3 linked regions of the Homo sapiens genome follow. The protein of the gene in region 3 interacts with the protein of the main gene of each other region in a pairwise test. Each region holds a gene or a part of one and is shown on either strand. Other genes may lie near its edges.

Evidence for each region.
Region 1: the proteins of DUSP29 (region 3) and PTK7 interact in a two-hybrid assay, tested with the Homo sapiens proteins (one study listed by BioGRID and IntAct).
Region 2: the proteins of DUSP29 (region 3) and AATK interact in a two-hybrid assay, tested with the Homo sapiens proteins (one study listed by BioGRID and IntAct).

What each region holds. Positions count from the first base shown.
Region 1 is NC_000006.12:43,128,307-43,135,411, reverse strand, and holds part of PTK7 (inactive tyrosine-protein kinase 7 isoform a precursor), read right to left. Parts: intron 6,436-7,105; coding exon 6,148-6,435; intron 5,686-6,147; coding exon 5,583-5,685; intron 5,183-5,582; coding exon 4,992-5,182; intron 4,902-4,991; coding exon 4,751-4,901; intron 3,397-4,750; coding exon 3,248-3,396; intron 2,992-3,247; coding exon 2,725-2,991; intron 1-2,724. UniProt on the Homo sapiens protein: Inactive tyrosine kinase involved in Wnt signaling pathway. Component of both the non-canonical (also known as the Wnt/planar cell polarity signaling) and the canonical Wnt signaling pathway.
Region 2 is NC_000017.11:81,156,184-81,163,288, reverse strand, and holds part of AATK (serine/threonine-protein kinase LMTK1), read left to right. Parts: intron 1-7,105. UniProt on the Homo sapiens protein: May be involved in neuronal differentiation.
Region 3 is NC_000010.11:75,063,587-75,070,691, forward strand, and holds part of DUSP29 (dual specificity phosphatase 29), read right to left. Parts: intron 1-7,105. UniProt on the Homo sapiens protein: Dual specificity phosphatase able to dephosphorylate phosphotyrosine, phosphoserine and phosphothreonine residues within the same substrate, with a preference for phosphotyrosine as a substrate. Involved in the modulation of intracellular signaling cascades.

The sequences.
Region 1 (7,105 bases), on a different chromosome or scaffold from region 3:
CTGTTAGAATATGAACTCCACAAGGAGAGGGGCTTCTGCCTGCTTTGTTCACAGTTGCATCCAGTACTGGGAAGAGCTAGCACAAGGTGCTCGACAAATCTCTGTTGACTGAATGCATTCCCAGAGCTCTCCGTCTTCTGGGCTCTACCCTCTAACACCCAGCACCTGATCTGGCCCTGTTTGCATCACACACTCTCAAATGCCACAGGCCTCCTTCTCAGAGCACAGCAAGGGACACTGGCATGGCTCAGTGTCAGCCTCAGTCAGCATCTGTGGAATGACTGATCAAAGCCAGAGTTCCCCAACTTGAACACACATGAAGTATCACCCAGAGCACTTGTTAAATACACATCTACCTGGGTCCCACCCCTAGAGCCTGGGTTGGAAGCTGTGGAGTGGGGCCCCGAATTCTGCATTTTTTTTCTTTTTTTCAAGGCTCCAGCAATGTCTTAGACATTTTTTTGGAGACAGGGTCTTGCTGTCATCCAGGCTCCAGTACAGTAGTGTGATCATAGCTCACTGGAACCTCCAGCTCCCGAGCTCAAATGATCCTCCAGCCTCAGCCTCCCAAATAGTTGGGATTATAGGTGTGCATCACCATACCTGGCTAAATTTTTTTTTTTTTTTTTCCTGAGACAAAGTCTCGCTCTGTCACCCAGGCTGGAGTGCAATGGCACGATCTCGACTCACTGCAACCTCTGCCTCCTGGATTCAAGCAATTCTCCTGCCCCAGCCTCCCAAGTAGCTGGGATTACAGGTGAGTGCCAACATGCCCAGCTAATTTTTGTATTTTTAGTAGAGACGGGGTTTCACCATGTTGGTCAGGCTGATCTCGAACTCCTGACCTCGTGATCCACCCACCTCGGCCTCCCAAAGTGCTGGGATTACAAGCGTGAGCCACCGCGCCCAGCTAACTTTTTAAATTTCTGTAGACACAAGGTCTCACTATTTTGTCCAGCCTGGTCTCAAACTCCTGGGCTCAAGAGATCTTCCTATCTCGGCCTCCCAAAGCACTGGGATTATAGGTGTGAACCACCACGCCTGGCCTGTGTTTTAAAAAGTATCCCTAATGAGGCCGGGCATGGCAGCTCACACCCATAATCCCAGCACTTTAGGAGGCCGAGGCAGGTGGATCACTTGAGGTCAAGAGTTTGAGACTAGCCTGGCCAACATGGTAAAACATCGCCTCTACTAAAAATACAAAAATTAGCCAGGTGTGGTGGCACACACCTTTAAACCCAGCTACTTGGGAGGCTGAGGCACGAGAATCACTTGAACCTGGGAGGCGCAGGTTGCAGTGAGCCAAGATCACACCACTACACTCCAGCCTGGGTGACAGAGTGAGACTCCGTCTCAAACAAAAGAAGAAAAAGTATCCCTAATGAAAGCAGGTGATTCTCAGACCTCAACTGGAGGAAGGCTTGACTGTGCATCTTGCCTTTGCACCTGCACTGTGAGTGTCCTGAGCACTCGTTACACATGTGCTGTGATTCCCACCCAAATCACGGCCTGAGTATAGGTGCATGTCTTCTAAGATTTCAGTATCCTAATGGGAATACTAGCATCACAACTTCACATTTACAAAGCCACTTTCATATTCAAATCTTTTTGCAAAGTTACCCACTCGGAAAGATAATAGTAACATAAAGGTAAGTGGAAGAAGCAGATTGCAAAATAGTTTGTATGTATGTGTGTCTCTGTGTGCATATTGTAATTTTTATTGTGTATCCTTTTAAACTACCACAAAAGGTTTGGAACAAGGCATGGTATAAAGAAATAAGTAAACAAATAAATCCCTATGCCTGTAGTGAGGATATAAGGTTTGTTTTGTTTTGTTTTGAGATGGAGTCTCACTCTGTTGCCCGGGCTGAAGAGCAACGGTGCGATCTCAGCTCATTGCAACCTCTGCCTCCTGGGTTCAAGCAATTTTCCTCCCTCAGCCTCCTGAGTAGCTGGGATTACAGGTGTGCCCCACCACGCCCAGCTAATTTTTGTATTTTTAGTAGAGATGGGGTTTCACCATGTTGGTCAGGCTGGTCTCCAACTCCTGACCTTGTGATCCGCCCGGCTCGGCCTCCCAAAGTGCTGGGATTACAGGCATGAGCCACCGCGCCCAGCCTGATATAAAGGGTTTATCATGTGTACTTTCAGTCATATGTCTTGCTTTTCTCCCCCTCTTTTTTTTCATAAGTAATATGTTTAGTAAAGAAATTTGGAAAGCATAACAAACTAAAACAAATTAAAAATCACCTATAATTTTGTCCACTATTACCTCCCAAAAAAGAAAAAAAGAAAAATCATTTTCATCTACTTCATTTGACCTTTCCAACCACCTTGTGGGGTAGGTAGTAGATTACTGGCTCCATTTTATGGATGAGGAGACTGAACCCCAGTAAGGTGGGTGATTTGCTACCATCGTCACTCTGTGCATTGGGAGCATAGTGGGACCCAGGTCTCTAGATTCCTAGTCTATTGCTCTTTCCTCTGTACCCAGAGGACCATTTTTCTGTGAGGGCTGTCACTATTTCCTCTGGAGCACCCACCCTAACCCCTGTGCCTGGCTCTCTACTGTCTACACCGACTCCCAGTAGTGAACTGATTCCCAAGCCTGCAGGGCCCAGAACTGAGAGGACCTCAGGTGAGTACCAGGGAAGCCTCTGTCCATCACACCCAGACCTGTGTTCCCCTCCACCTCTCCTTGACCTTCAGGGCAAAGGTGCTCACTGGCCACAGTGATGTTGACATCCTGTCTCCGCTGACCAGCCAGGTTGGCCGCGTGGCAGGTGTAGACACCAGCATCACTTTCAGCAATATTGGCCAACACCAGCTCGTGGCCCTTCTGGTAGACCCTGCCATGGGTGGGCAGCCGGACTCCCGCGTGCTCCCACCACACGCTGGGCTCTGGCAGACCCTTGGGGGGAAGGCAGGTCACACGCTCCTCGCTGCCAGCTGTAAACACCCGTGGCTCAAATAGCGGCATGTCTTCAATCTCTGCAAGGACATAAGTAGGAGGAATGGCCCAATTATTGTGGGTCTCAGGGTACATGATGTTCTCCCACAGCAAGCCTAGGCCCTTTCCCAGCACAAACCCTCCCCTGCAGCCCTCTGCATATCCTCTTCCTACTCCCAGCATCCTTTTCTTCCCCTGCCCTCCAAGCGGCTGAGTAAAAACAGAAGCCTAAATCTCTATGTGCCAAAAATGTTAAAGGCAGCCTCCCACATCAGCACCCCAGACCCAGAGACTCACCTGCTAGGTGAAGTGTGGCTTCCAGGATGATGGGTGGGCCCCTCTGCCCCTGGCCAATGCAGCGGTAGATCCCTGCATTGCGTGGCCGGACCTGGGTCAGCAGCAGAGACCCGTTGGCAAACACTGTGGCTCTGCGGAGGTGTGGGGGGCTGCAGAGGGGAGAGTGCAATTTGGAGAAAGTGGCCAATAGGCCTAGTTCTGGAAAGGAATGCAAGGGAACCCCTTTCCTGCAAAGTCGGAAATGTAGTAAGGAATCGACCAGGAACAGGGCAGAGAGAAGGAAGCTGACACTCCAGACTGGTGTGTGTGCCTGCATACACTTGCTCAGGTGCACGTGCAGGTGTGTGTTCCAACTACAGGAGATCAGCTCGGGAAGCAATGAGGCAAATGGCAATGCAGGTGCGAGAGAGAGTGATATGGTTTGGCTGTGTCCCCACTCAAATCTCATCTTAAATTGTAGCTCCCATAATTCCCACATGTTGTGGGAGGGACCCAGTGGGAGGTAACTGAATCATGGGGGCAAGTCTTTCCCGTGCTGTTCTCATGATAGTGAACAAGTCTCACGAGATCTGATGGTTTTAAAATGAGGCATTCCCCTGCAGAAGCTCTCTCTCCTTTGCCTGCTGCCATCCATGTAAGACGTGACTTGGTCTTCCTTGCCTTCTGCCATGATTGTGAGGCTTGCCCAGCCATGTGGAACTGTAAGTCCAATTAAACCTCTTTCTTTTGTAAACTGCTCAGTCTCGGGTATGTCTTTATCAGCAGCATTAAAATGGACTAATACACAGAATAACCACCATGTGCAACTGTCAAGACAGGGAAGCCACCTTCCCACAGGGCCACGTTGATAGGGCACCCAGCTCCAGGGTCAGATACCCCTCAGCCATACCAGGCAGGCTACTGATGATGTCCTCAGGGCTGAAGCCAAGTGGCATCCAAGCCCCTAGCCTAGGAAGCCACACCCCCAAGGACCATGGTCGTGCCTGACACTGCAAAGGTGTTCTATGTTCTCCTAGGGTCCAGGCAAGAACAGAAGTCCCTGCAGTAGGGCTGGAACCTTCTAGAGGTGTTTGCTTCCTCTAAAAAGTGTGTGTGTGTGTGTGTGTGTGTGTGTGTGTGTGTGTGTGTGTGTGTGATGTCTTTGCCACACTGGATCACGCTATCTAGACTATGACCACCTGACTACCTAGGTCTCTTGTGTCTCTCTCATCCCTGGGGTCTCTACCCTTCCATCCCAGAAGACCCATGTGGGTGGTGGGGAGAGAGAAGTGGAACCATCACTAGCTCAGAGTGCCTTTGTGCAAACTGGAAAAGGGCTCTTCCCAGAGACTCTTCCCTGTGTCAGACTCATCTTGTAAAAGCAAAACATTCAACTGTGTCTCTTGGAAATTTGAAATAATACATGTACAAATCTGTGATGTCTGTGATACAAATCGCACCCCCTTCTACAGAATGCATGTGTGTGGTACATGGTACTGGAATGCTCCCAGCCAGATGCCTTACCGACTGCGGTTAGTGATGGGAGTCTCATCCTCAAAGAGCCACTGCAGGCTCGGGGGTGGCTGGGCTGAGAACTGGCAATGGAACATGGCCTCCTCATACCTCGCTACTACCACGTCCTGGGGTGCCAGCACCACCCTGGCAAAGCTTTCATCTGGAGAGGGAAAGATGGGGGAGCATGCAGCCTGGGTGGTGAGGCCCTCCTGTGCTCACCTCATCCCTTCCGCCCCCACCCCAGGCTCACCAGCAATGCTCAAGGTGAAGTTCTGGCTGCTGCAAGCCTGGCCAAAAGCACTGTGGGCGCAGCAGGAATACAGCCCACTATGCTCAGGACCAGCTGGCCGGAGCGTCAGGTTCCGCTCCTTGCTGCTGACTGTGTGGTTGCTCTGACCATCAGAAAGGGGGGTCCCATCTCGGAACCATTGGTAGGTGGGCCTGCAGGGCAGACACAGTCAGCAGTGGTGGGGAGGGGTACTCAGTGGCCAGTGGAGAGGATACAGTATCAGAGGGTCAGGGCTAGACCTTTCAGTTTATACATGGAGAAACGGCCTGAGGAAGGGAAGGGACTTGCAAAAGGGCACACAGTAATTCTGATTCAGGGGCAGAATCAAGTTGATATTAGATCTCCCAGCTCTACACACAATGTGGCTCACTCTTCAGGCCACCAGGGGCCGGCATAGGGCAATATCTGGGGGAGGGCAGGGTGAAGAGCACTGTGGTGGTGGAACGAGTGGTCACAGAATGGAGCGAGGTAACATCCGCATAGAGTCCAAGATTTGGGGAGACATCCCTGTCCGGAATAACCCTCTTCATCCCCACCTCCCTGACTCCTTACCGAGGGTGCCCATCAATGTGGCAACGAAGTGTGACCTGGGTCTGTGGCTGGATCTCAGCTTCCGAGGCTGGATGCTTCAGGACCACAGGACCTGCCTCAATCCCTGTAGCAGAGGCCACGGTTGCAGTGAGGGGCAGAGCAGGGCAAAGGCGGGAAGGCAGAGGGCAAGGAGGACAAGCAGGAAGCCGTGGAACCTCGAGGCTCTGTGCCAACAGACACAAGGAAGCCCTGGAGGCTGAGGCTGGGGCTACAGTTACCAGATACTAAGTGCCTGCCTGGTCCCTGGCAGGTCAAGTCTGACACTTGGCCAAGGGCTCGGCCGCCCTTTCCATTTGCACAAGCATGCAGCAGATAAATGGGTCCCAGACTTGAAGGAAAAAATTTTGGAAAAAATATAACTTTTAATTTCCTCTTATCCACATGAGCAAAAAAAGCTGATGATAAATGCATTCTGCCTGGCCCGTTTAACTGGAAATGGGAGAAGCTGAGGTAAGGGAGGGATCCCCCAGGCCTCAGTCATTGAGGGTCTGACAGGGGGACTGGGCACAGCCCCCCTGGCTCTCACATTTGATGTTGAAGGAGGCGTTGGCACTGCGGGCTTCTTCTCCAGTGACATCATCCCGAGCCACACACTGGAAGGTGCCAGAGTCCTGCAGCCGGTCCACAGCTGCAAAGCTCAGGCTGCTGCCCTGGGCGAAACGCCGCTCCGTGTCCTGGACAGGGGCCCCATCGAGCAGCCAGTACACATGTACCGGGCCCGGAGCCTCAACCTCACAGCGAAGCAGCGCCCGGCGCCCCTGCAGTGCATCCTGGGAGGACGGCTGCTTGATGAAGACAATGGCTGTCTGGGTACCTGTAGATGCAAACAGGGGAGAGGCAGGGTCAGGGGGAGCTGCAGCCTCTGTCCTAACACAGGCCACCTTGTGCACAGGAGGAAAGGGGCTGTGTACACAGGAGGCGTCCAGTAAGTGCAGGTGTGAAGGATCATGATGCCACAATTGCAAGAGTCCCCTGAAAAACTTTTCTTTTTCTTTTTGAGATTTCTTTTTCTTTTTTTGCTCTTGTCACCCAGGTTGGAATGTGGTGGTGTGATCTCAGCTCACTGCAACCTCCACCTCCTGGGTTCAAGTGATTCTTCTGCCTCAGCCTCTCGAGTAGCTGGGATTATAGGCATGAGCCACCACACCCAGCTAATTTTTGTATTTTTAGTAGAGACAGGGTTTCGCCATGTTGGCCAGGCTGGTCTCGAACCCCTGACCTCAGGTGATCTGCCCACCTCGGCCTCCCAAAGTGCTAGGATTACAGGCGTGAGCCACCACGCCCAGCCCCCTGAAGAGCTTTTCAACTGTGCTGAGTGCTCTGTAGGATACAAAGACACAGTAGCCTCTCCTCAAGAGGTCTGAAGACTAGAGGGGCACACAGAACACAGTTACAGTCACATAAATGCCAAATGAATGGGGTGGGCAGGCAGTAGTGACTTGAGCACGAAGGAAGAAGGGACCCCTAAGGGCTGGCTGCACAGG
Region 2 (7,105 bases), on a different chromosome or scaffold from region 3:
CCTCCCCAGCCTTCACCTTCCCTGGTGCGGCCTCAGGGCGTCATGATTTCTAGTCGTCCTGAGCCCTGGGGCCTGGAGCTGTCCTAGGCTGGAAGTGGGCATGGGGACACCGCCTCGCTCCGGCTTCTGGAGAGGCGCGCTCAGCCTGAGGGTGGGGGTCAAATGCTCTGCACAGTTAGGAGCAGGGGTTTGCCCTGGGGCCACCTCTGGTTTGCTGAGGGGCCCTTCTGTGACTGGCTCTCCATGCCTGTTTTGTCATCTGTAAGGTGGGAATGGCTGTGATGGCCAGGTCTGAAGGGACAGCAGTGGTGCACTGAGCCAAGGGTGGGTACCTGGGCAGTGCCTACCATGGCTGATCCCTGACGCAGAGGTGTCACTGTTGACCAGTGGGCAGGGCTTGGAGTTTGTGGAAGTTCTCGGAACACGTGGCAGCCTGGATTTGCCACCCCCCAACCCCCGCCTCTCCCCTGTCCCTCAGCTCACGCCCTGTCTCCTGCCCAAGGTCTCTCCCTGTGTCTGACCTGAACCAGGCGCCATGGGGGGTTCCTGGGAGAAGTGCCTGTGCCTGGCCACGGTGCTCGCTCTATCAGCATTCATGTGAACCGGACACCTGGCACAGGGCTGGGCAGGCTGGGCCTCAGGATGAGCCTATTGATGGGGAGAGGGCAGAGGAGGCAGCGAGCCCCGGGCCAGGCATGGCCTCAGTGGCAGGGGCAGGGCTGGACTCAGGGGCTCAAGGGGCTGAGCAGGAGGCCATGGGCCTGGGTGGTCCCCGGGAGTCCTCCCCTTGGAAGGTGCCCCACAGCTGACACTGCCCGGGCACCAGGTGTGGAGTCTGTTTGAAGGCAGCTGCTGCTTCAGTCTCCCAGACCACTCAGGCTCAGGCAGCAAGCACCTGCCCTGGGAGGAGTTACCTGTCCTCCTCTCGCCCCCGGGGTCTCAGAGGATGCCCCAGAGGAAGCTGTGCCCATGAGTTCGGCCCATCCCCCTACTTCCTCTCAGGTCTCAGGTCTCCCACCGAGACCCTTAGGCTGCAGGTGTGCAGGCCGAGGTGGGTTCTTGGAGAGGGTCCCATGGGAAGGCTGTGTGGACAGTGGCCTTGGGGAGCGGTCACACGCAGGCCGTGGGCCCTGGGCACGGGTCCGGCTCCCACCTACCAGCATGGGTGCGGGCACTCGGGGAGGGTGTGGGTGTCGGCACTCGGGGAGGGGGTGGGTGTGAGGCCCCACACTCCCAGGCATGGGTCAGGGAGAACATTTCTCTCATTCCGGCACATTCTCCAGGAGGCCAGGCTGTGCGCTTCCCTCCATGGGGTGGTGCAGTGACCCAGAGGACCGGCCCCTGCAGTGGCCACCCTGTGGGCCCGAGTGCCCCAGAGCTGGCTGGGGTGGGCTGGCAGCTGTTGTGTTGTGTGGAACATGCTGGAAGGTCTGCCTTGTGCCACCCTGCATGTTTGGGATGCATCGACTCCCCGCCATGCCCTCTGCCTCCCCGGCTCCCAACCCTGACCCTGCCTCACGGGAGAGTTCTGGCGTGGGCTGGTGTCCTGGGCCGGGCCCTGCTGTGTGACCATGGACAGGTCTCATAACTTCTCTGTGTCTGTTTCACCTCTGAAATGGGGTCCGGCAGCACCCACGCTCCAGGAGGTTCCTGAGAGAACCCGGGGGCCGTCACGGCAGCTCCAGGGCTGGTGACTGTTCACGTCCTCTCTGCACTCACCCACCACCCCGGCCGCCTGGGAACTGTGCTCCTGCCTGTGCCCCCTGGAGGCATGTGCTGAGTGGAATATGTCACCCCAAACCCATGCCCGCCCAGTACCTCAGAATGGGGCCTTATTTAGAACTAGGGTCTTTGCAGCTGTAATCAAGTTAAGATGAGGTCGGACCGGAGTAGGGTGGGCCCTGAATCCAATGACTGGGGCCTGATAGAAAGAGGAGGAGTGGCGTGCACGCGGGAAGGAGGCCACGTGCAGAGGCTGGAGTGATGCAGGCCCAGGAGCACCTGGGGCCGCTGTGCCGGAGAGGCAGGAAGGATCCCGCCAGCGCCTCGAGGGAGTGGCCCTGCCCATGCCGTGCTTTCCTCCTCCACTGTCCAGAACTGTGAGCACATCCATTCCTTGCCGTCTGGGCCAGCAGCCCGTGGTCCCAGGACACACATCTGGGGGTCTCCTTGGGTCTGAGGGGTGAGCACAGCTGCCTCGAGACATCAGGAGCCTCTGACTCCATCCTGAGAAGAGTTATCCTTGGAAGAAAATGAGGCCACGTGCTAGCCCCCAGCCTCAGAACCCTCCAGGGCGCTTGGCTGGGTGTGAGGAGGAAGCAGGCCGGGGCCACAGCTGCGTGGCATCCTCTGCCTCCTCCTCGGTCCACGGGGGAGGCAGAGGGTCCACGGAGCACCTCGGTGTCTCCTCGGATGTGGTGTCGGCGGTGAGCCTGGGACCACGCTGTTCTGCTGTCACCGGCCTCCTGTCTCCAGCTCACGGGGTTCTTCCGGGGTAGGCTTTTCTCGAGGGCCACCTGACCCCTCTGTGCACGCCAGGGCAAGGCTGACGGGAGGCCCACTCGACCACTCCTGGGTGGGAGCCTGATGCAAAGCACCTGCCGTGGGGCCTCGGCCTGCGGTCCTGTCCCTGGTGGCACAGATCCAGGGGCCCAGGAGCCCGTGTCCGTGGTGGGGAGACTCCCGTCCCCTCCGCAGGCCACAGTGACAGGAGGGCTTTGGCGTCTGGGCCCCCCTGGGCCTTGCCCTGCCTTTCACAGAGGAACAAGCGCCCGCGGGACCGGCGGCCTTGGCCTCCCCGCCCCCCCGCAGAGGAAGCCGGCAGAGGAAATGAGGGCAGCGGACGGGGCCGGAGCCAGTTCCCAGGCACCTCTGAGAACTGTCACGGGAGGCGGCGTCCTCGCCGGGTCTCCAGCCTCCCTCCGCAGGGACCGGGGCCTGGGGTCAGGGGGCTGCGGCCTTGGGTGGGGCTGGGGCGGGCTGGGGTCCTCCCGGGGGTCACTCTGGGGTTACAGCCACGGTCAGAGCCACGCGGGAGCGACACCCAGAGCCTGGTACGTGGGGGTTTCTGGGAGGATGCGGGCTGTGCTCCCACTGCCAGCCTGGGGGTGGGGGCCGTGGCCAGGAGACTCCTGCTCCTGCAGGGACCCTGCCAGCGGAGGTGGCCGTGCCAGAGCAGGCAGGGCCTCTGCAGTGGGCGATTCTGGGCAGCCGGGGCCACCTGCCCCAGGGGGAGTGAGGGGCAGGATGCTACCCCGAGCCAGGGCTGCTCAAGGCCACCTCTCACGGCGGGGCGTGGCCAGCCTATCCCCATCTCACCCTCGGGGAGGGTGTGGGGTCCCTGCTGCTGAGGGACAGGAATCTGGCTCTACCCACCTGCCAGGGTCCCCAGGAAGACCCCTCCCTGTCCCTGGTATCGGGTAGCCCTGGCCAGCTGGCCTGGGGGAGCCAGGCTGGGGGGCAGGGGAGCTGGTCCGGGACCAGGGCTCTGCCGAGTCACCTCTGTGCCAAGGCCACGGTTTGAGGCTGTGGCTTGAGGCCGTTGTGGGATGGAGCTGGGGATGCCGTCCTCGGTGTGAGGATCCTCCGACGAGGCCCTGGTGCTCGGTGGGGCCCCTCTGGCTTCCCTTCTGCTCTGCTTCTGGGAATTCTTAGTGACTCTGAACAAGGGGCCTTGGGTTCCCTTGGTACTTGGTCCTGCGGATTCTGCAGCCGGTGGGGCTTGCTTAGGGTTTGGGCTCCGCTGTGAGGCCCACGTGGAATTTCCTCGAACCCCCTGCGAAAAAGGCGTGTGGCTTCCTAGTGACCACGGCACACACAAGTGCGCTCTGACCTCCGGGGTGCGGGTCCGGGGCTTCCCCGCATTGGATTTACCCGCGCGGCAGCACGCCCAGCCCCCGAGAGTCCCCGCCACTGCCCCCAGGACTGCTACCTGGCCGGTCACTCGCAGGCCGCCGGCGCCCTCCCAGCTGCCCCATGTTGGGGATCTCGCTCGCTCTCTGTGAATGATGCTCAGTTGTGGGCTGTCCCGTGGGCTGCTATCGTGGACGCTGGAGTGAGGGCCCCTTTACTGAGAGGTAACTCACATACCAAGGACCCACCTGTGTCAAATGAGCAGCTGGGGCTTTCCTGCATTCCCAAGAGTGCAGCCATGGCACGGCTAGCTGTGGAGCATCCCTGCCCCTGACAGAAGCCCCATGCCCGAGGGCATCACTCCCCATCCCCTGCCCCCAGCCCTGGCAGCCACCGATCTGTCTCGGTCTCTGGGCCCCTGGCCTGGACGTCTGTCTCATAAGCAGGGTCCTGTGGCCTTGTCCTCTTTGGGCCCTGAGGTTTTCGCTGTGTGTATAGCGGCCCCAGGGATCAGGGGTGCTGGTGTGTGACTGTGGGGCACTGTCCAGGGAGCTTCCAGGAGGTGGTGCCATTTTGCCCCCATCCCCATGGACGAACGCCTCCATGGCTTCCCCTCCCGCCAGTGCTGGCTGCTGTTTTTATAACGCCCGGGCTCGTGAGCATGTGGGGGCTGCCCATGGTGGTCTTGTCTGCCTTTCTGTGGCGAAAGATGTCAGGAGCCTTTCCAGGTCCTGCCCAGCTCTTCTGAGCCCCTCAAGCGAGTGCCCATTGGAGGTATTTTTTGGTGGTTTGTACCTGGTGTCGGGCAGCCCTGGCCAGCTGGCCTGTGGGAGCCAGGCTCGGGGCAGTGGGCAGGTCCTGGACACAAGGCCTCAGGTCTGTGCGCAGTGAGCAGGTGGCCTGCTGCTTCACTTCCCGTGACCCTGTGCAGGGCTGAGCACCAGCAGCTTCCACCCTGAAATGGGCCGAGGTGAGAGCACTTGCGGCAGGAGCCGGCACACGCCCCGCTTTCCTTCCCAGGGAGCTGGGTGCAGACACTGACCAGCACACCGCCAGGCTCAGGCACCTTCTCTCCCTGGGAAGCTGCCTGGAATCTCTGTGGCCCAGAGGCAGGTGTCCCTGAAAGCAGCTCCTGGCCCCAGGGATGAATGACGGGGAGGACGGACCCTGCTCGGACCCTGGCTCTGGAGGCTGGGCCCCGCCCTGCTCTCTGCCGCGGGGTCTGGCGAGATGCTTGGCTGCTGCTGGAGCCTGAACTAGCGCGTCAGACTGTTTTATTTTTCCTTCTGTGACGGGCGGCCCTGCAAGTCTTGTCTAGAAATACCCGTGGCCGGCATGCATCCGCGACGCCCGGCCGCCCTGGCCATGGACCTGCCCGTTTCCTCCTTGGCAAGCCTGAGCCCAGCAGCCCCCTGCTGCTGCCCAGCCAGCACTGAGGGAGGGACTCAGTCCGTGCAGGTCTGTAGGGGGCCAGCTGGATGCCCGGCTGTGTCAGGGCCGGGGTCCTGAGACGCACAGGAGGGTAGGCCCCCACGAAGAGCGGGACCGAGGGCCAAGGTGTTGGGGGACAGTGTGCGTCGAGCAGAGACAGGCCAGGAGCGAAGAGATGGGGGCTGTGGGACCTTAGCTGGAGCTGCCTGCCCCTTGGAGGCTTCTCCACTGTCAGGGATCAGCCTCCTGGGGAACCGGGGGCATTCCAGGTGCCCTTCCCACCCTTGGACCAGCCTTGGGGTAGGCCCTGGGGCATCTGATGCTGATGCAGGCTGGGCCTGGGCTGTGTGTTGTGTCAACAGAGGGGACATTCCTTGTGAGTGTCCAGCTGGTGGAACTCACTTCCGTCCCTGGGCTGGCCTGGGCTGGGCACCCATGTTTGATTGCAGGGTTGGCTGTCGAGGGGCAGGAGAGGCGGACTTAGAGATGCTGGGGTGGTAACCCCCGGGAACTGTGCGGGGGTTCCCTGCAGCAGAGAGTAGGGCTGGTCCTAGCACTGGGGGAGGGCCGGATGCCCACCTTGGGGCTGCCAGCGTGTGCGGCAGGCATGTGCGTGGAGGGGTACGTGTGCGTCTATGAGCAAGTGCAGCCCCAGGTTGGAGGCGAGCGTGTGCATGGGCTGGTGCGGTGCCCGCGGTGTCGGATGGACCCGGCCCGGGCCCGTGGACCTTGCCATGTCCTGGGCTTGTCCCGGAAGCTTACATTTTATGTGGCCTCTCCTAAAAATAACCGTGGCTGGCCTGCATCCTCCTTATCCGTGGACATTCGGGCTCCCCTCTCTTGGCGGGGGCGGTGTCTTGTGACTTACAGCCCCTGCCCTGTCCTCACCTGCCACCCAGAATCCCACGCGGCAGATGGTGCCCACATCTGTCTGGTCTCGGGAGTGACTGTGGGGATGGTTCAGGGCTGGGCACGATGCCGCCACCAGGGCCTGTGGGGGCACCGTTGCTGTCCCAGAGGCTCCTCCTGCCCTCTCTCCCCTGTGTCGGGAGGCCTGTGGGGTCTTGCCGTACCCCGCCCAGGGCCCTGCTTCTGAGTTGGGGAGGGGGTCCTCAGTTTCGTGCCTGACTGGCGATCAGGGCCGAGGAGGGGTCTGCTGGACTGGGCTCTCTGTAGCAGGAGCTGATTGAATCCCAAAAGACACAATCCCAAGTGCCATCATCCTGAGTGTGGAAATCCCAAAAGGTCAAAATTCCAAAAACCGAATTCAGGAAAAAAATGATTTAAAAGATTCTTTAGAAGACATTTAGTCTGGGCGCGGTGGCTCACACCTGTAATCCCAGCACTTTGGGAGGCCAAGGCAGGCGGATCACCAGGTCAGGAGTTTGAGACCAGCCTGGCCAACATAGTGAAACCCTGTTTCTACTAAAAATACAAAAAATTAGGCGGGTGTGGTGGCTGGCGCCTGTAGTCCCAGCTCCTCGGGAGGCTGAGGCAGGAGAATGGCATGAACCCGGGAGGCGGAGCTTGCAGTGAGCCGAGAAGCACCACTGCACTCCAGCCTGGGCGACAGAGCAAGACTCTGTCTCAAAAACAAAACAAAACAAAAAACATTTATTTGCATTTGAAAAGGGATTTATTTGAAAAACATAAAAACTCAATAAAAATAAAAACTTCAGAGGCCACTTCACACAATAACACAGGCCATAGTAACATACATTGTAACATAGTAACATACATTGTAACATGGTAACATACATTGTAACATAGTAACATACATTGTAACATGGTAACATACATTGTAACATGATAACATACATTG
Region 3 (7,105 bases):
GGCTGGCCCGTGTGTTGGAGCTCCAGTTGCCCAGAGTGGGACTCTGCTCGCTTACACATCCTTCACTGGTTCTCCTCCCTCTTGGGTGCTCTGCATGCCACACCGTGCTCCCGGGAGCACCTCTCAAATAAACAACATGCACCCAAACTCTAGTCTCAGAGTGTGCTTTTAAAGGAAACTAAACCAAGGTACAGCTAATTTAAAAACATTTAAAGGTGAAAGACACGGTATACATATATCAAAACATCACATCGTATCCCACAAATACAATTATTATTTGTCAATTAAAAATAAAAATGTAAGGAGAAAAGAAAAAACAAAGCTACCATGATAACAGAAGATGCAAGAGGCCGAGCAGTACTTGACCACTAAGGCCTGGAGTGCCATTTCCTTCCATGAAAGTGACCTTGCCTTTGAAGAGCTATCAGCACAGGGACTCCTCATTAACTCAGACTCTAGTTCAGACTTTTTTTTTTTTGAGATAACGTCTCACTTTGTCACCCAGGCTGGAGTGCAGTGGCACAGCTCACTGCAGCCTCAAACTCCTGGGCTCAATATCCTCTTGCCTCAGCCTCCCAAGTAGCTGAGACCACAGGTTGCACCACCACACCTGGCTAATTTTTTTTTTAAAGTTTTTTTGTAGCCGGGCACGGTGGCTCACGCCTGTAATCCCAGCACTTTGGGAGGCCAAGGCAGGTGGATCACAGAGTCAAGAGATCGAGACTATCCTGGCCAACATGGTGAAACCCCGTCTCTACCAAAAATACAAAATTTAGCTGGGTGTGGTGGCGCATGCCTGTAGTCCCAGTGACTTGGGAGGCTGAGGCAGGAGAATTGCTTGAACCTGGGAGGCAGAGGTTGCAGTGAACCGAGATCGCGCCACTGCACTCCAGCCTAGTGACAGAGCGAGACTCCGTCTCAGAAACAAAAAACAACAACAAAAAAAGTTTTTTGTAGAGATGGGCTCTCACCATGTTGCCCAAACGGGTCTTGAACTCCTGGGCTCAAGCGTTCCTCCTGCCTCAGCCCCACAAAATTCTGGGATTACAAGCATGAGCCACTGCACCTGGCTTATTTCAGAATTTTCTATTGCAAGGCTTGCATTTAGTTAAAGGTTTCCTTTGCCCAAGTAGGAAAGGTTTTAATCTGAATTTGAAACTGTAATTTGACACCATTATTTTACTTTATGCATAAAAAAACCCAAACAAGCAAAAAACTTTTTATAGTTTTTTTTTTTAACTAGGAAAAAAATACATCAAAATGTCAATACCATGGGTGACTTTTTCTTCTGTTTCCTAATTTGGGATTCTTTTAATAAATAGTGATATTTTATAATAAATAACCATGTGTATATTTTTAAACTGTGCTGGCCAAGCAGAACAGTCTTGGCAGGAAGCTGCTTGTGACTTCTATTTTGCGATTTCTACCCCATCTCACTTGCTCCTGGGGCCTGGCACTGTCACTGGCCCCAGCAATCACTGAAGACCCTCAGATCTACATGTTCCATCCTCCCTGAGCTCCAGTGCCTTCTTTGACAAAAATGGAGCTAAAGCTAGAGGGGCAAAATGCTTTTTAAACAAACAAACAAAAAAACAAAAAAATTTCAAGCTGAACTCTTTTGCTTGCTAAGGTGGCAGATGGGAGAAGCGGCCTGGAGAGATGCATAATTCATTTCAGTGGGAAAATTAAAATCTCTAAGTAGAACCCTTGAGGCTGCAGAGATTGGCTAGGGAGCAATGCCTAGGAATGAGAGCATGTGTCAGGAAAGAAGGCTTATCTTTTTTCTTTTTTTTTTTGAGACAGAGTCTTGCTCTGTCACCCAGGCTGGAGCTCACGGGTTCAAGCGATTCTCCTGCCTCAGCCTCCGGAGTAGCTGACACTACAGGCACCCGCCACCCCACCCGGCTAAATTTTGTATTTTTAGTAAAGACAGGGTTTCACCATGTTGGCCAGGCTGGTCTCAAACTTCTGACCTCAAATGATCCACCCACCTTGGCCTCTCAAAGTGCTGGGATTACAGGCATGAGCCACCGCGCCCAGCCATCTTAATATTTTGAAGAGCCACATACAGGCTTCTTGCTTAACAGAAAGCACAATTTAAGGATTTTTTTTTTTTTCCGTAGAGACAGGGCCTCACTCAGTTGCCCAGGCTGTGGTGCAGTGGTTCAATCATGGCTCGCTGCAGCCTCAATCTCCCAGGTTCAAGGGATCCTCCCACCTCAGCCTCTAGAGCAGCTAGGACTGCAGGCATGTGCCACCACACCCAGCTAATTTACTATTATTATTATCATTTATTTTATTTTATTTTATTTTATTATTTTATTTTTGTAGACATTGTCTTGCTATGGTGCCCAGGCCTGTCTCCAACTTCTGGCTTCAAGTGATCCTCCCATTTCAGCCTCCTGAAGCACTGAGATTACGGGTGTGAGCCACTTTGGCCTATTTGAGGGTCCCTTTGATGGGAAAAACATGAGTTCTGTGGCATGGCCCAGAAAGAGGTGGAGTGAAACAAAGAGAACTAAATTGTTCTGTACAATAAAGCAAGAGACTTTTGAGTTTCCTAGAACATTCTAGAAGGAGTATGAGGGGGCCCTGCGGCAGGACTGAGGAAAGGACCAACTGGGGCCAGAGACCACCAAGTGAGGAGTTTCTGGGGGAGGAATAGCCACGAGATTACTGAGAACGGGGGTTCCCAACCTTCAACTTGGCAGTGCCCCATAGCTGTGGCAGCCCTCTCATTGGGACCCTAACCCTTCAACAGAATTGTTACACACAACAGCCATGTTCTCGGTGACTCCAAGAAATCAAAGGGAAAGAGGCTGGCGCTGGCAGAGAGAGAAAGCAGAAGTTTGTGAAGCAGCAGATACAGAACCATCCCCTTCTTGTACAAAAATAAATTTCCCCAAAATATTAACACTGGCTACATGCTCGTTTTAGGGTGACGAAATTATATGTGATTTTTGTTTTCTTTTTTTAAAGTAACCATCTTTTCTAAATTTTCTGTGCTAGACATGTTTTACTTGAGCATATGGAGGGAAAAAAACAAAATTCCATGAAAGTTCTATTTTAGAAGTGTTCTGCACGGAGTAGAAGCTCACCCAAAACCCCCGGGCCGAGGCAGGAAGGTGGCCCTCAGGACAAGGTCTGACCCTGCTCCTTACATCTCTCCAGTGGCACCGAGTGCCTCCTGTCAAGTGGGAGCCCCCCGAAGGCAGCTCTGTGTCCTCCCCGAGGCTGCCCATGGCAGCAGTCAGGCCTCCGTGGTGTCAGAAGGTCATCCTAGCCGCCTGTGCCTCCTGAGAAAGCAGGAGGAATCTAGGTTTTGTGGATCTTGAAGCTTATTCAATTTCTTTTTTCTTTTTTTTCTTTTTCTTTTTTTTTTTTTCTTTGAGACAGAGTCTTACTCTGTCGCTCAGGCTGGAGTGCAGTGGTGCAATCTCAGCTCACTGCAACCTCTGCCTCTTGGGTTCAAGCAATTCTCCTGCCTCAGCCTCTCCCAAGCAGACACGACTACAGGTGTGTGCCACCACACCTGGCTAATTTTTGTATTTTTAGTAGAGATGGGGTTTCATCATGTTGACCAGGCTGGTCTCGGACTCCTGATCTCAAGCAATCCTCCTGTCTCGGCCTTCCAGAGTGCTGGGATTACAGGCGTGAGCCACTGCACCCGGCCTGAATTTCTTTAAGTAAAAGAAAACCAAACAGGTATAGGGCCTTGGAAGCGGCTGGTGCAAGTGCAGGGTTCTGAAGCTTGGGGTAAATCCACCTCGGAGTAGGGGGGATCTTCCTTCCCCTCTGACTTCAGATGAAGAGGGCAGCCCCCCTCCCCACCCCATCCCTTACAGTGTCAGAGCCAGCATCATTGATTCTGCTTAGCTTGGTCTTAGTCTAACTCAGCTGACATGGGGGTGCTCTGGCGGGTCACGAGAAGGAATGAGGAGTGGCATCGTTCCCTCCTTGACTTCCCCTCAGAAGTTAGGCCTGGCCCTGACTCCAAAGCTTTACCGTGTATGCCCCTGTGTAGGGTTGGGCTGGGCCAGGCCAGCATGGGAGGGGATCGGAAAGGGGTGTGCTGAGCTAAGCCAGGGAGGTCTCTGCCTTCTAGAGGTTTTTAGCTGAGTAGAACAATTTATAGTGTAAACATTTAAAAAATTCTCCTCTCCCTAGAGGTCAAGACTAGCCTGGGCAACATTATGAGACCCTGTCTCTATAAGAAAATATTTTATTTTATTTTATTTTATTTTGAAACAGAGTCTCACTCTGTCGCCCAGGCTGGAGTAAAATGGTGCAATCCAGGCTCACTGCAACCTCCGCCTCCCAGATTCAAGCGATTCTCCTGCCTCAGCCTCCAGGGTAGCTGGGATTACAGGCGCTCACCATCCCGCCCAGCTAATTTTTGTATTTTTAGTAGAGATGGGGTTTCACCATGTTGGCTAGGCTGGTCTTGAACTCCTGACCTCAAATGATCCACCCCCATCAGCTTCCCAAAGTGCTGGGATTATAGGCATGAGCCACTGCACCTAGCCTTCTGCAAGAAAATTTTTAAAAATTATATACATATAACAGAAAAGTTACCACCTTAGCATTTTAAAATACAGTAAAGGCTGGGTGCAGTGGCTCAGGCCTGTAATCCCAGAGCTTTAAGAGGCTGAGGCGGGAGGATTGCTTGAGTCCAGCAGTTCAAGACCAGCCTGGGCAACATGATGAGACTCCCATTTCTACAAAAGATAGAGAAAAAAATAGCTGACCATGGAGGTGCATGCACCTGTGGTCCCAGCTACTTGGGAGGCTGAGGTGGGAGGATTGCTTGAGCCCAGGAGTTTGAGGCTGCAGCGAGCTATGATCATGCCACTGCACTCCAGCCTGGATGACAGAGTGAGAACCTTCTAAATATGAAAAATCCTCCTCTCCCTTCGAAGGCATTCTGTATCTGTGCCTGTGTGTAGATCCATTGCATTTTCATGTTTCTAAAGCATGGCGCTCATGGGGAAAGCTGGTCTGTGTTTAAGTGCCTGTGTACCACGTTTCTTCCATGACACCACCCAAGTTGGGCTTGGATATGCTTGGAAAGAAGGGGGAGAGTAAAAATGTTATTGTGGTTGGGTGAATTACTCTATTAGGAGAGTAATACCTACTGCTAGGGTACGTGGGGAGGGGCGGAATTTGGCAGCAGTGTCCATATGTAAATATGTACATATTTTTAACTTAGTACAAGTTAGTGCTTGTCTTTACGCATTTTAGATATACAAAAATGATCCCAACTAGGGAATGAAGTAAGTGGATTTTTTTTAAAAAGAAAACTTGGACGTAAAAACTCAGGAATTTTTTGTGGCCTATAATTTAATTCCTAATGTATCAGACATATTCCAAGTTTAACAGATTTTTTTTTTTCTTTTGGATTCTGGCAAGTATGTTAACAGGAGGCAATTATGTGAATTAATATAAAATCCTTTTATTAAAAAATACAGAAGAGCCTTCATTTTAAAAGTAATTTAATATTCCTTCTCTGATGGTGTTGATGTCATGAACTTGTTTGATTAACTCTTCAAATGGTTTCAAAGCGCTTGGGGTTGTAATTTATGAACTTCTAATTGATTTCCCCAATCTTGGTTTGGCAGAGGAGGGCCTCCCGGAAGCCCTGAGGAGGCTGGAGGCCACACTCAGCTTCCTTCTCAGACAAGGGAGCCGGCCGGGATGGACTTTCTCGAGCGGCCAGGGGAGAGGGAGCTGTGGCACTGGAGACCCAGACCATGATGTCTGACCAGGCCCGTTGTGGTTCCTGAATCCTAAGCAGCTGGGCCTTCACTCCCTCTGAAGATGTGTGGAAACACCACAGGCGGTTTCACAGGAACCATTTCCCACTGGGCCTCACCTCAGAACAAGCCTTCCTTGTTCGGGGAAGGGCAAGACTCCGCAGGTGCAGCCCTCACCATGGTCCTGCCGCTCCACCACTTCCTGTCCAGGCCACTTATTCGTCACTGGTCCTGTCTCAGATGCTACACAGAGGACGCTCTGGGCCTTGGGAAGGCGAGGGGCTAAGGCTGCCACCTCTTAAATCTGCCACCCACAAAAGCTCGCAGAGAAATCAAGGCCTTGGCTGGACCCAGGGAAATGATTGTGTTGCTTTTATTGTGTGCCCAGTGATTATCTACTCTCAAAACCTTGTAGATAGTGGCTGGGCACGGTGGTTCACACCTGTAATCCCAGCATTGTGGGAGGCCAAGGCAGGCGGATCCCTTGAGGTGAGGAGTTTGAGACCAGTCTGGCCAACATGGTGAAACCCTGTCTCTACTAAAAATACAAAAAAAAAAAAATGAGCTGGGCGTGGTGGTGTGTGCCTGTAATCCCAGCTACTAGGGAGGCTGAGGTATGAGAATCACTTGAACCCAGGAGGTGGAGGTTGCTGTGAGCCAAGATCATGCCACTGCACTCCAGCCTGGGTGACAGAGTGAGACCTTGTCAAAAAAAAAAGAAAGAAAGAAGAAAGGAAGGAAGGAAGGAAGGAAGGAAGGAAGGAAGGAAGGAAGGAAGGAAGGAAGGAAGGAAGGAAGGAAAAGAAAGAAACGTTCTAGATAGGGAATAACTGCCTCCACTTTACAGATGAAAAAATGAGGGTCAGGGAGGTTAAGAAACAACACACCAAGCTAGTAAAGGGTGCAAATAGGACTCAACCCAACAGCCCCACATCCCAACCCACCACAATAGATACTTCACTATATTCTTGGTCACAAAGTATAAGCTCCTGAGGGCATGCCTGGGCCTCTCAATTCTGTATGCTTCCCTCCCTAGAGTGGAGCACACAGTCATGTAAATTTGCAGCAAGCAGCTCTTATGGGCCTTGGAATCTCACTACCTGGGCTTCGGCTTCCTCATCTGTCAAATGGGGATAACTTGCACCTCACTGGTTGCTGAATTAAATGAGATAATGTAAGCCCTTGGCACATCCGCATGAGCTCAAAGAGGGTTTCAGGGAGCAGAGACAAGGAGGCGGCCTGGAGGGTGGGTGGGGAATTCCCAGCTGTACTGGGAGTTGTGTTCCCAACCGAGAATAGGAAAGAGTGGGTGGAGCAGTTTGGCCGGGGCGGAGGTCTTGGTAGGGAAGCTG